Linked DNA regions of Homo sapiens: region 2 is linked to region 1. The links come from fine-mapping of genetic effects on gene expression. Tissue or cell type: whole blood. Region 1 holds a variant in brackets; the other region holds the start of a gene. All regions are shown on one strand. Distances are between the middles of the regions.

Evidence for each region. PIP is the estimated chance that this variant, and not a neighbour inherited with it, causes the effect.
Region 2: SERINC5 starts here. The variant in region 1 is fine-mapped to the expression of SERINC5 in whole blood (INTERVAL, PIP above 0.99).

The regions. Positions count from the first base shown.
Region 1 is chr5:80,126,005-80,131,155 of GRCh38, reverse strand. It overlaps a transcript of SERINC5 not described here. Among named protein-coding and RNA genes, the nearest start is that of THBS4-AS1, 45 kb to the right of the region's middle. The variant G/C (reference allele first, on the strand shown) is at 2,041.
Region 2 is chr5:80,253,832-80,258,982 of GRCh38, reverse strand. SERINC5 (serine incorporator 5) reads left to right here and starts at 2,935. Exons shown (of 12, transcript NM_001174072.3): 1 at 2,935-3,087. The coding sequence starts at 3,061. RefSeq lists enhancers at 1-901, 902-1,835, 1,836-2,769 and silencers at 2,623-3,062, 3,173-3,452.

The DNA.
Region 1 (5,151 bases):
CACATGGGAATTATGGGAGCTACAGTTCAAGATGAGATTTGGGTAGGGACACAGCCAAACCATATCAGTCACCATCCTCACACTCTTCCTCAAATATGTATTACATTTTCAGTGAAGTTCTCCCTGACTATTCTATGTAAGATTTCACTCTCTCCCTGAATTTCCTACCCTACTTTACTGCTTTATTGTTTTCTATAGTACTTATCACCATCCAGCCAACTATATACATTTTCTTACCTTTTCAGTTTGTCTTCAGTGGCACTAAAATTCAAGCTCCCTTAGGGGTAGGGATGTGTTCACTCCTGTATCCCCAGTGTCTAGAATGATGCCTGGTACATAATAGGTGCTTAGTAAATAGGTGACAAATGAATAAATGAACAAATGGATGGATAAAAGAAAGATTTGTGGATGGCAGTAGTGAAAAACAAGACATCGTAGTGCCTTGTGAAGGACTTTTAAATGCCAATTGAAATGTCTAAACTCTATTTAGGGAATGGGACATAGGAAAGGGTGATACTTAGGTAGATAGTGGATGATATCCTTCTAGGCATATGGAAAGATAAAGATAGGTGCTGGAAAGAAGAGATTTGAGTATCTGAACTTAAAACAAATTATATCAAGGTTACGACAAACCGGGAAGATGTAATTACAGATAGGGCCCTGTTGTATTGCCCAGGCTCAAACTCTTGGCCTCAACCAAGTAGCTGGGACTACAGACACAAGCCACCACAACCAGCAATATATTTAGTAATTAAAATGCCTTCTTTTTTTTTTTTGAGATGGAATCTCGCTTTGTTGCCCAGGTTGGAGTGCAGTGGCGCGATCTTGGCTCACTGCAACCTCTGCCTCCTGGGTTCAAGTGATTCTCCTGCCTCAGCCTCCCGAGTAGCTGGGATTACAGGTGCCTGCCACCAGGCCCGGCTAGTTTTTGTATTTTTAGTAGAGTTGGGGTTTCATCATGTTGGCCAGGCTGGTCTTGAACTCCTGACCTCAAGTGATCCACCCACCTTGGCCTCCCAAAGTGCTGGGATTATAGGCATGAGCCACCAAGTCCGGCTAAAATGCTCTTATAAACCAATAAGAATATAATAGAAAAACAGTTGGTCAAAAAAACATGAAACTATCCTTCAATCTTACTAGTAATTAAGGAAATTTTGTTTCACTTATCAAATGGTGATTAATTTTCAACTAAGCACTGAAGACGATATTGAGGAAGACTGCATTTTGTATGTTGTGGTGGGAGTGTGGCTTAAATTGCCTGGCACATTTAGCAAAATGTATCAAAACTGTTAAAAAATGACACACCTTCTGACCTCGCAATTCCAATTTAAGGAATTTCCCTAAGGAGTTAATAATAGTTTCAACTATTCAGTTACAAGAATATCACTCAAATAGAGTTCATAAAAGCAAAATAATAGAAATAATTTAAATTCACTTAGAACATCTATATATGGAAATGTTAACCTAGCTAATAAATACAGTGCTGTAGAAAAATATCTTATTGAATGTGTTCTGAATGCCTTGTAAAAAATAATTTAGACAGCTGTTGCCAGGCACAGTGGCTCATGCCTATAATTCCAGCTACTTGGGAGGCTGGGGTGGGAGGATCACGTGAGGCCAGGAGTTCAAGACCAGCCTGAGCAACATAATGAGACCCTGTCTCTACAAAAAAATTGTTTTAAAACTTATCCAGGCATGGTGATGCACACCTGTAATCCCAGCTGCTCTTAAGGCTGAGGTGGGAAGATCCCTTGAGTGCAGCAGATGAGTTCCAGGCTGCAGTGAGCTATGATTGCATCACTGCACTCCAGCCTCAGTGACAGAGGGAGACCCTGTCTCTAAAACAATCAAACAAACAAACAAAACCTATATACAGTGCTATCCAAGTTATGCACACATGCATAAACGTACTCGTGTGCACATGGACCCAAAGGAAATGTACCCAAATGTTTACCTACCATTACGTCTTCACAGCGGCACCTCCTCCCTGCTTTTCCCTCCTTCATATTTTGGGAAGTTTTCTAGTAGGAGCAGCCATGT[G/C]TTTTCCATACAACTCTCCTGTCATAGCTTCAGTTAATTGATCCAAGAGTGGACTTTCCATCTAAGCTGGACAATCAGTGTCTTTCTGGAAATTTCTTCGAAATGGCTGCTGTCTTGAACCAAGGAGTTTGGAAACTTGAAAGATGTTGTTAGTGACTGTTTTAAGCATCACAGACATAGAAAGAAAGCCAATCTGCAGAAAGATATAGGATTAAAACAGCTGTGCAGAGGAGCAATTGTGGAAGAGAGGAGAGGGAGGGAAAGAGTAAGAATGAATGGACTTCCTGGATTTCCTTATAATGTTCCAGTCTGCAACTCTAATCCATTCTGGAGGCCCAGCATAATAAAATAATAATGATAGCCAATGTTTATTGAACACTTAATGTGTGCTTGGCATAATTCTCACAATGATCCTATGGATGTTACTGTTCTAATCCCCATTATGGCAATGGAATAAAGGCAAACTTTTCTTAAAATCCTTACTAATTTGCTTTCACAGAAACTGCCAGATCTCCCCTCTCTCCCCAGTTCCCTTTCCTGCCTCCTCTTTTCTTCACTGCCTCCCCTCCCCACAAGATCTTCCCCTTTAGGTCAATCTTTCCTTTCCATATGCAGTGCTTTCTCTGGGCTTCTTTATTTGTATAACCATTATATCAGTAAGGAATTGCATTTGACAAATGGACCACAGGGACTTAAAAACCTGGGATGTTGGTTCAGCAGCTCAAGGACGTCAGGTCAAAGATTACTGTGGATTTCTGGTTTCCCCTTGTGGCCCCAGCAGCTGCTTTGCCAATCCATCTAATCTGCATTCCAGCCAGAAGACCCTGAGGGCACTGGGCTCCCTGGAGAAAAATTCATTGCATGTTTTACGGCAGGAAATATCAAGATGAGTCTGGAAATATCTTCTTATTGCCAGAAAACAAACATACTTTCAAAGACCCTTGGAAGACAAGCTAAGTTATGTCTAGTCATAAATTTTATCTAGAAATAAGTTTTGTAACCATTATAGTATTTTGTGTATATTTTTCTGCTTTTTAAGGTAAGTAAAGAGACTGATTCATTAGACTCAAAATATTAGTAAAAATTTATAAGATGTTGATAACTAAGTTTGAAATAATGTTCAAATGTTTAAATTGTTAAATCTTTAAATTTATAATTTATTAAATTTGTAAGGTTAAACTTTTTAAGTTCAGTATGTTTTCAGTGTTTATTAAGATTTTGCCTATAGAAATGTGAGTCTGCTTTGTTGTTTTTTTCCTTGAGAAATCAATTAAAATTAGATTGTAGTTTGAAATGTCTAAAACTTAATTCTGAAAGTTTGATAAATATTTGGGAGTACCTTATCAAATTTACAAGCCAGTTGGGCATTCATCAAAACCAAATAAAAGTAGATAATAAAATATTAACAAAACTGATTTATAAATTAACACAAGTTTAAAGTCTTCAAAATTAAGTTTTAAAACATATAATTTAAATATATAAAATATAAGTTGAAATTAAAGGGAGTATTTATTTCAATGCATAAAGGCTCTCTTCAGACATAAAGAAAACTCAGATGACATTTTGGAGGTAGGTGGTATCAGTCAGTGTCGGCTAAGTTATGCTGTGGTAACAAGCAACTCCAAAACCCTCAGTGGCTTACAATGACTAAAGTTCAGTTCTTGCTCACATTGTGGGCTACCGGTAGCTTTGCTCTAAGTTTTCCATCCTGGGACCAGCAGTCTGTATTTGGGATATTGCTGGTTTCATGGAAGAGAGAACGAACATAGTAGAACCATATGATGAATCAGAGCTTCTGCTTCGAAGTGGCACACATCACTTCTGTTATCATTGCATTGGTCAAAGCAAGTCTCATGGCCACTCTTGAGGTCAAGGAGATGAGAATATGTAATCCTCCCACAAGAAGGGACACCTCAAACCACATCTCTAAGGCTGATGCAATGAAGTGGGGAAGTATTATCTTCCCCAGGGTGGGGCAGCAAATATTTTGAGTAATAAAATCTACTGTAATGGGGAATAGGAGGTTTTTAAAAAATTCTTACAACTTAGTTTTTTCCCTGTCACATAGGCTGTCAGTATATCCTAACTTACAGAAGTGATTGTGATTGTGTCTGGGTGTTGGAATTATGGTGATTTTAATCTTCTTCTTTGAAAGTTTTTGATGATGAGTATATATTTATTTTGTAGACAAATTAACAATTTTTAATTAAAAATTTAAATTATACCAGGCTTGGTATCGCATGCCTGTAATCCTATCACTTTGGGAGGTCAAGGTGGGAAGATCACTTGAGCTTAGGAGTTTGAGGCCAGCCTGGGCAACATAGTGAGACCCTGTCTCCATTTTTATATAAACAAATAAGCAAAAATTTTGATGAAAAATTTTTTTGTAACCAAATTAAAATTTATGAATTTCATTTGTACAAAAAAGGCAGTGGATAACTAACTTGTTTTTAATATTGGAATGGTAGTATGTGCAGAACAGTGTTTTAGAAAAATACATCTCACAACATTGAAGAAGAAAATGTATGTTGGAGATTTTGTGTTTTAGATATATCTCAACCTGTCAGCTTTGAAAGAATGTGGCTATGAAATGGAGTGTGTTTGTTAAAGAAATAAGTAAATCAGTAAGTGAATGTTGGTTAGTTGGGTGGAGAAAGGCTTAGAAGCATCTAGCACTAAAAGATATATTCTTTTGTGGTTATCTGGCTGATGTCATGAAATTCTGACTTATACCACCAGGGAAGCTTACATTTCTCTTTGGCAGGGAACTTCAAATTTAGTACAGTTTGGACCTCACTGCATAGTCATAGTAAAAACTTTTGTACTTAATTGACTCTTCGTTTGCTTCTGGTTTTATAGTGGCCTTCCTGATGAACCAGCTTTTTATAATCCAAATTGGATCTGTGCCTACTTAATTGTTTCTGTCCCAATTCTACTTGGTGGTCAAGACTGAATCAGATTTTCGGTTCCTCCTTCTCCTCTCGTTTTGACTTTCCAGTGTATTCAACTGAATTTTCATCATAATGACTCCAAAGTACTCTTCTCTTCCTTTGTCTTGTGGTCACAAGAAAAATCACAAGATCACATTGATGGATGACTCATGAGCTCCTC
Region 2 (5,151 bases), 130 kb before region 1:
CAATCTCGGCTAACTGCAACTTCCGCCTCCTGGGTTCAAGCGATTCTCCTGCCTCAGCTTCTGAGTAACTGGGATTACAGGTGCGCACCACCTCGCCCGGCTACTTCTTTTGTATTTTTAGTAGAGATGGGGTTGCACCATGTTGGTCAGGCTGGTCTCAAACTCCTGACCTCGTGATCCGCCCACCTCGGCCTCCCAAAGTGCTGGGATTACAGGCATGAGCCACCACGCCTGGCCGACATAAGACAGATTAACAGAAGAAAAACCGTTTTAATTACCTGCATACGCAGCAGCACAGGAATCTCACAAAACATGAAGGGCCAGATGATTGAAGCTTATAGCATTCTGAGCTAGAAATAAATAAGGGCTTGGGGCTTCTGTGGGGACAGTGGGGAGGCACCACAGGTAGGATATAGGAGGGTTAGTGGAGGAAATGTATGGTAAATAATGTTGCCTTGTGGCTGCGCGCGGTGGCTCACACCTGTAATCCCAGCACTTTGGGAGGCCGAGGTGGGCGGATCACGAGGTCAGGAGTTCGAGACCAGCCTGACCAACATGGTGAAACCCCGTCTCTACTAAAAATACAAAAATTACCCGGGCGCGGTGGCGCGCGCCTGTAATCCCGGCTACTTCAGAGGCTGAGGCCGGAGAATCGCTTGAACCCGGGGGGCGGAGGTTGCAGTGAGCCGGGATCATGCCAATGCACTCCAGCCTGGGCGACTGAGCGAGACTCTGCCTCAAAAAAAAAAAAAAAAAAAAAAAAAAAAGTTGCCTTGTTATGTAAAGTCTCTCATGTAATAAAAGTTCTCTGAGCAGCTGCCTTCCTGACACAGATACTTTTACTATGTGGACTTCCTTTATAGATGTAAATTTGCTTTACAAAAGGACAGCTTTTCAGAGCTACTCCCGTGTCTGCAGTTTCTCAGAATAACCAGCTTGAAATGTGCCAAACAAGTGTATTTTGGGATAGCATATTTTGGTATTCTACAGTCATAATTTGGGGTGCTGTGGCCTGAGCCTCAGCAGCAAAAAGAGGACATGATTCAGGGTTCGGAGCGCTGGATTCTATTACCAGCTCTGCCCCCTAACCCAGTGGTCTCTTGTGAAAGGTCCTCGAGTTCCGAGTCGAGTCAATTTCCCTAAAAGGCAAAGAGGCATCGGAGTTCCAGCTGGCTTAAACATTTGTAGATTTCGCGCCTTCCCTTTTCGCCCCTCCTTCCTCTCCACCCGTCTCCCCACCCCGAGCTACTAGGGGGCCTGCCCATTTCCCCAGGCCAGGAGTAGGGCTGAAGTGAAGTGACCGCGGTCGTAGCCAACAGCGAAGCTCATTAGAAAGTCCTGGTGAGAGCCTCAGCTTCTGATGAGTCACAGATCGCCACGGAGCAGGTTGCTGCGCTTGACTGATTGGGTTTACCCTATTTTTGTTTTGAGTTAGAGCCAACTGTCCTCATTCCTTTTCGTGGCTCTGAGTAGGGCCTGCTCCATTATATCTCTTTCTCTAAACGCCTGCATCTGAGATGCTGGAAAATCCTGCGCAGCTCATAACCCAAGGCCTGGTTTCCATTCACCTTTCCTCTTCTACTCCTAAGCTGCCCAAGACACTCCTTTGCCAGAGCTCTGTCTGGAAACGAGTCCCTCTAAGGTCAAGCCTTGCGTCATGTGCCAGGGGATCAGACGAGTGGATTCCAGGCCCAGTTTTACTTCCTCAACTTTGCTGTGAGGCTTTGGGCAAGTTATTTAACCTCTCTGGGCTTCAGTTGCCTCACCGCTAAAATGGGTACGGTAATGCTTATTTGAAAGAGCAAAGGGATTGGCGCAAAAATCGCACTAACAGAAATATCTTCATTCCGGCAGGGCGCGGTGGCTCACGCCTGTAATCCCAGCACTTTGGGAGGCCGAGGCGGGCGGATCACCTGAGGTCAGGAGTTCGAGACCAGCCTGGCCAAGATGGTGAAACCCCGTCTCTACTAAAAATACAAAAAATTAGCCGGGCGTGGTGGCAGGCGCCTGTAATCCCAGCTACTCGGGAGGCAGAGGTTGCAGTGAGCCGAGATCGCGTCACTGCACTCCAGCCTGGGCGACAGAGTGAAGCTCCGTCTCAGAGAAAAAAAAGAAAAAAAAAAAAGAAATACCTTCATTCCTCTTGGGGAGGTGGCTGTGAGGACAGCAGATCTGAGTGGGAGAAAACCTAGAGACGGCCTCCCTGCCTTCTGTATGGAACAAGCAATTATTGGGCACCCTCTTTTTAGTGAGGAAGCAGGGACGGAAAATGAGTCCTTGGGCCAGCGCAGGAGGAGAGGCTGGAAAACATATCAATATTCAGGAAGGCACGGAAAGGGCTCTCAATGGATCTCTCACCAAGTGCCATCAGGGCAGAACAGTCAAGGGCCCAGGGATTCGAGGAAGCTTGGGAGGCGCGGAGAGCCCAAAAGTTGAAAGTTTTCTTGGCAGATGAGGGAAGGAAAGGGATTTCAGGAACAAGGATCTCGTGGGTGGGCTGTCCCAGTCGGCGCGCGGCAGAGCGCAGACCAGCACCCGGCGGTCTGGTCTGTGCAGGAAAGGCAGGAACCGCTTACTAAGGCTCCAACCTTTTAGAGGCAGCAACAAGCTCTTTCTCTGGATCCGAAGGCGGAGAGGCGCTGCGCTCTCATTTGGCGAGGGCCCGAGCGCGGCCAGACCGCGCACCAGACCCGGAGCGTGGGGCCCAAAGGCTGGCGGCCGACTCCGGAGCTCGGCGCCCCAACCGGGAAGTGATCGCAGCAGCCCACCCGCCTGACGCCAGCGGAAGTGCGAGCCCGGGTCGAGCCTGCTCCGCCGCCGGGCGCCCGGGAAGGGGCGGGCACGGGGCGGGGCTGGGGGCGGGCGAGGCGGGGCCGGCGGCGGGGCGGGGCTTGGCCGCAGTTGTTTTTACCCAGGCCTCGGCGCCTAGGCGCTTCGCCGAGGCTGATCTTCGTTCAAGTGTGAGCTGCGGCTGAGCCCAGCGCTCGAGGCGCGAGGCAGCCAGGAGGGCCCGTGCGGCGCGGGGAGCCAGCGAGCGCGCCTTCGGCATTGGCCGCCGCGATGTCAGCTCAGTGCTGTGCGGGCCAGGTGAGCGAGGCCGGGCGCAGCGCGGGGGTTGTCAGATCGGAGAACCGGGCCAGGAGTCCAGGCGTGGAGGACCTGCCTGGGTGCGCTCCCAGCTCCGCGGCCGAACGTAGGGCCCGGGTGGGTCGCTCGGGCTGGCCCCGCGGCGCTCAGCCGTCCGGGAAATCCTGTGCCCTGGGCGGGCGGGAAGGGGCAGGGGGAAGCCCGAGAGGCTACCCCGGGGTCTTCCCGTCCGGCCTCCGGGACTCCGCGTGGAGCGGGGCGTGCCGGGCTCGGGCGGAGGATCCCGACTGCTCCAGGGGCGTGTCGCCTCTTGCGCCGAGCACTGGTGAATAGCGCTGAGCTCCGTAGCCCTCTCCACTCTGCTTGTCGGATGAATCCAGGAAGAAAAGTGGGTTTAGGCACCGTCTCCTTTGCTATGCCCTGAATAAAACTCGGGTCAAACAACCCAGGCAGGTTGCGCTTGGCATCTCGTAGTCGAGCGTGGGCTCTGTACCTTTGAGAATGTCTCGAAGCCTGACTTCCAAACTACCGGGCGCAGGTCTGGGCGAAGGGAAAACTCAGCCCTGCTTCCTGAATTTCCCGACCCAACCCTGGCTCGGTACTAGCACGACTGCCTGGGTAGGGCTGGAACCTTCCTGCCTCTCTTTGCAAATAAACTTGTTCGAACCTGTTTTTTAACTCTCGCCTATTTAAACCTATGATGTCTTAAAACATTATGTCTCCTACCAGTTACTGCATCAGTGTAGAATTAGTACGTCTTAGCCCTGTAATGCTGGTTTCACTCCTTCCTGCAGAGTTAGAAAAAACGAAGTAGGTGAGTCTCTTGGATGTGGAGCTCTTTTCTCCCTTTACATGTGGATTATCAGCGTTTCGGTACAGAGTTTTAATGGAGTGTTTTCACGAACGAATCAGACTCTAGGGAGCATCCTGGTTCGGGGTGTTCTTGCTGACACTCAGCCTTTCCACAATCGAGGCCAGCTGTAAGTGATGGAGTGGTTAAACTGTGGGTTTCTGTAACCGGCGATTATACTGGCAGATAATCTGTCCTGTTTAGAGTGGCCACGTGGAGCTGTCTTGGTTTTTGAGGTCTAATACTGTGCTTGGCATACATTAAAGCTGGCCTTTTCAGAGTTGAGGAAATTGAGGCTTTTGACGACTGAGACGAAATGATTTTTTTTCCCTGTGTCAGGCAGAGAGAGAAAGAGAATGAGAATGGTCACCACCTTACCAGGTATTTGAGAACAAGGTGGACCAGGAAAGACTGTTTTCAGAAAGCTCTGCAAATCTTTTATTCCCGTTTTGAAATACTTTTTCTCCAATATGATGCGACACTTTTTATTACGTAGTAATGATACAGCTCTTTAGGGGCATCTGTCCTGGTCCCTTGAAGTCCCCTTGAGGCTCTTTCTGCCATTCCCAAGTTCCTAATTTAGAGCTCTGTAATTACCAGTATTCAAATGGGTTTTGTAAAAGAATTATTTTGCTGTTGATGTTTTAGCAGGTTTCTAAAGTCTCCCCTCTTAGGACTTTGGAAAGAACCAAATCAAAGTTAACCCCTGCTTTCCCAGGCCTGCTGGAGGCATCACTGTGGTGGGCCTCAGTGCTGTGTGATGGTGATCACACTGTGATTTCCTGTGGATGGGGCGGTAGGAAGTTAAAAGAAAAGCAAACAGGCTGGGCGCAGTGGCTCATGCCTGTAATCCCAGCACTTTGGGAGGCAGAGGCGGGCGGATCACCTGAGATCAGGAGTTGGAGACCAGCCTGACCAACGTGGAGAAACCTCATCTCTACTAAAAACACAAAATTGCCGGGTGTGATGACGCATGCCTGTAATCCCAGCTACACAGCTAAGGCAGGAGAATCGCTTGAACCCAGAGGCAGAGGTTGTGGTGAGCTGAGATCACGCCATTGCACTCAAGCCTGGGCAATGAGCAAAAAGAGCAAAACTCCATCTCAAAAGAAAGGAAAGCAAACAAAACCTCACAGCACCGTCAGAAGTTACCAATTCTTGTTTGTTTCTGTGGGCACCTGCCTTTTGCCAGGAGCCTGCTATATAGTCATAAG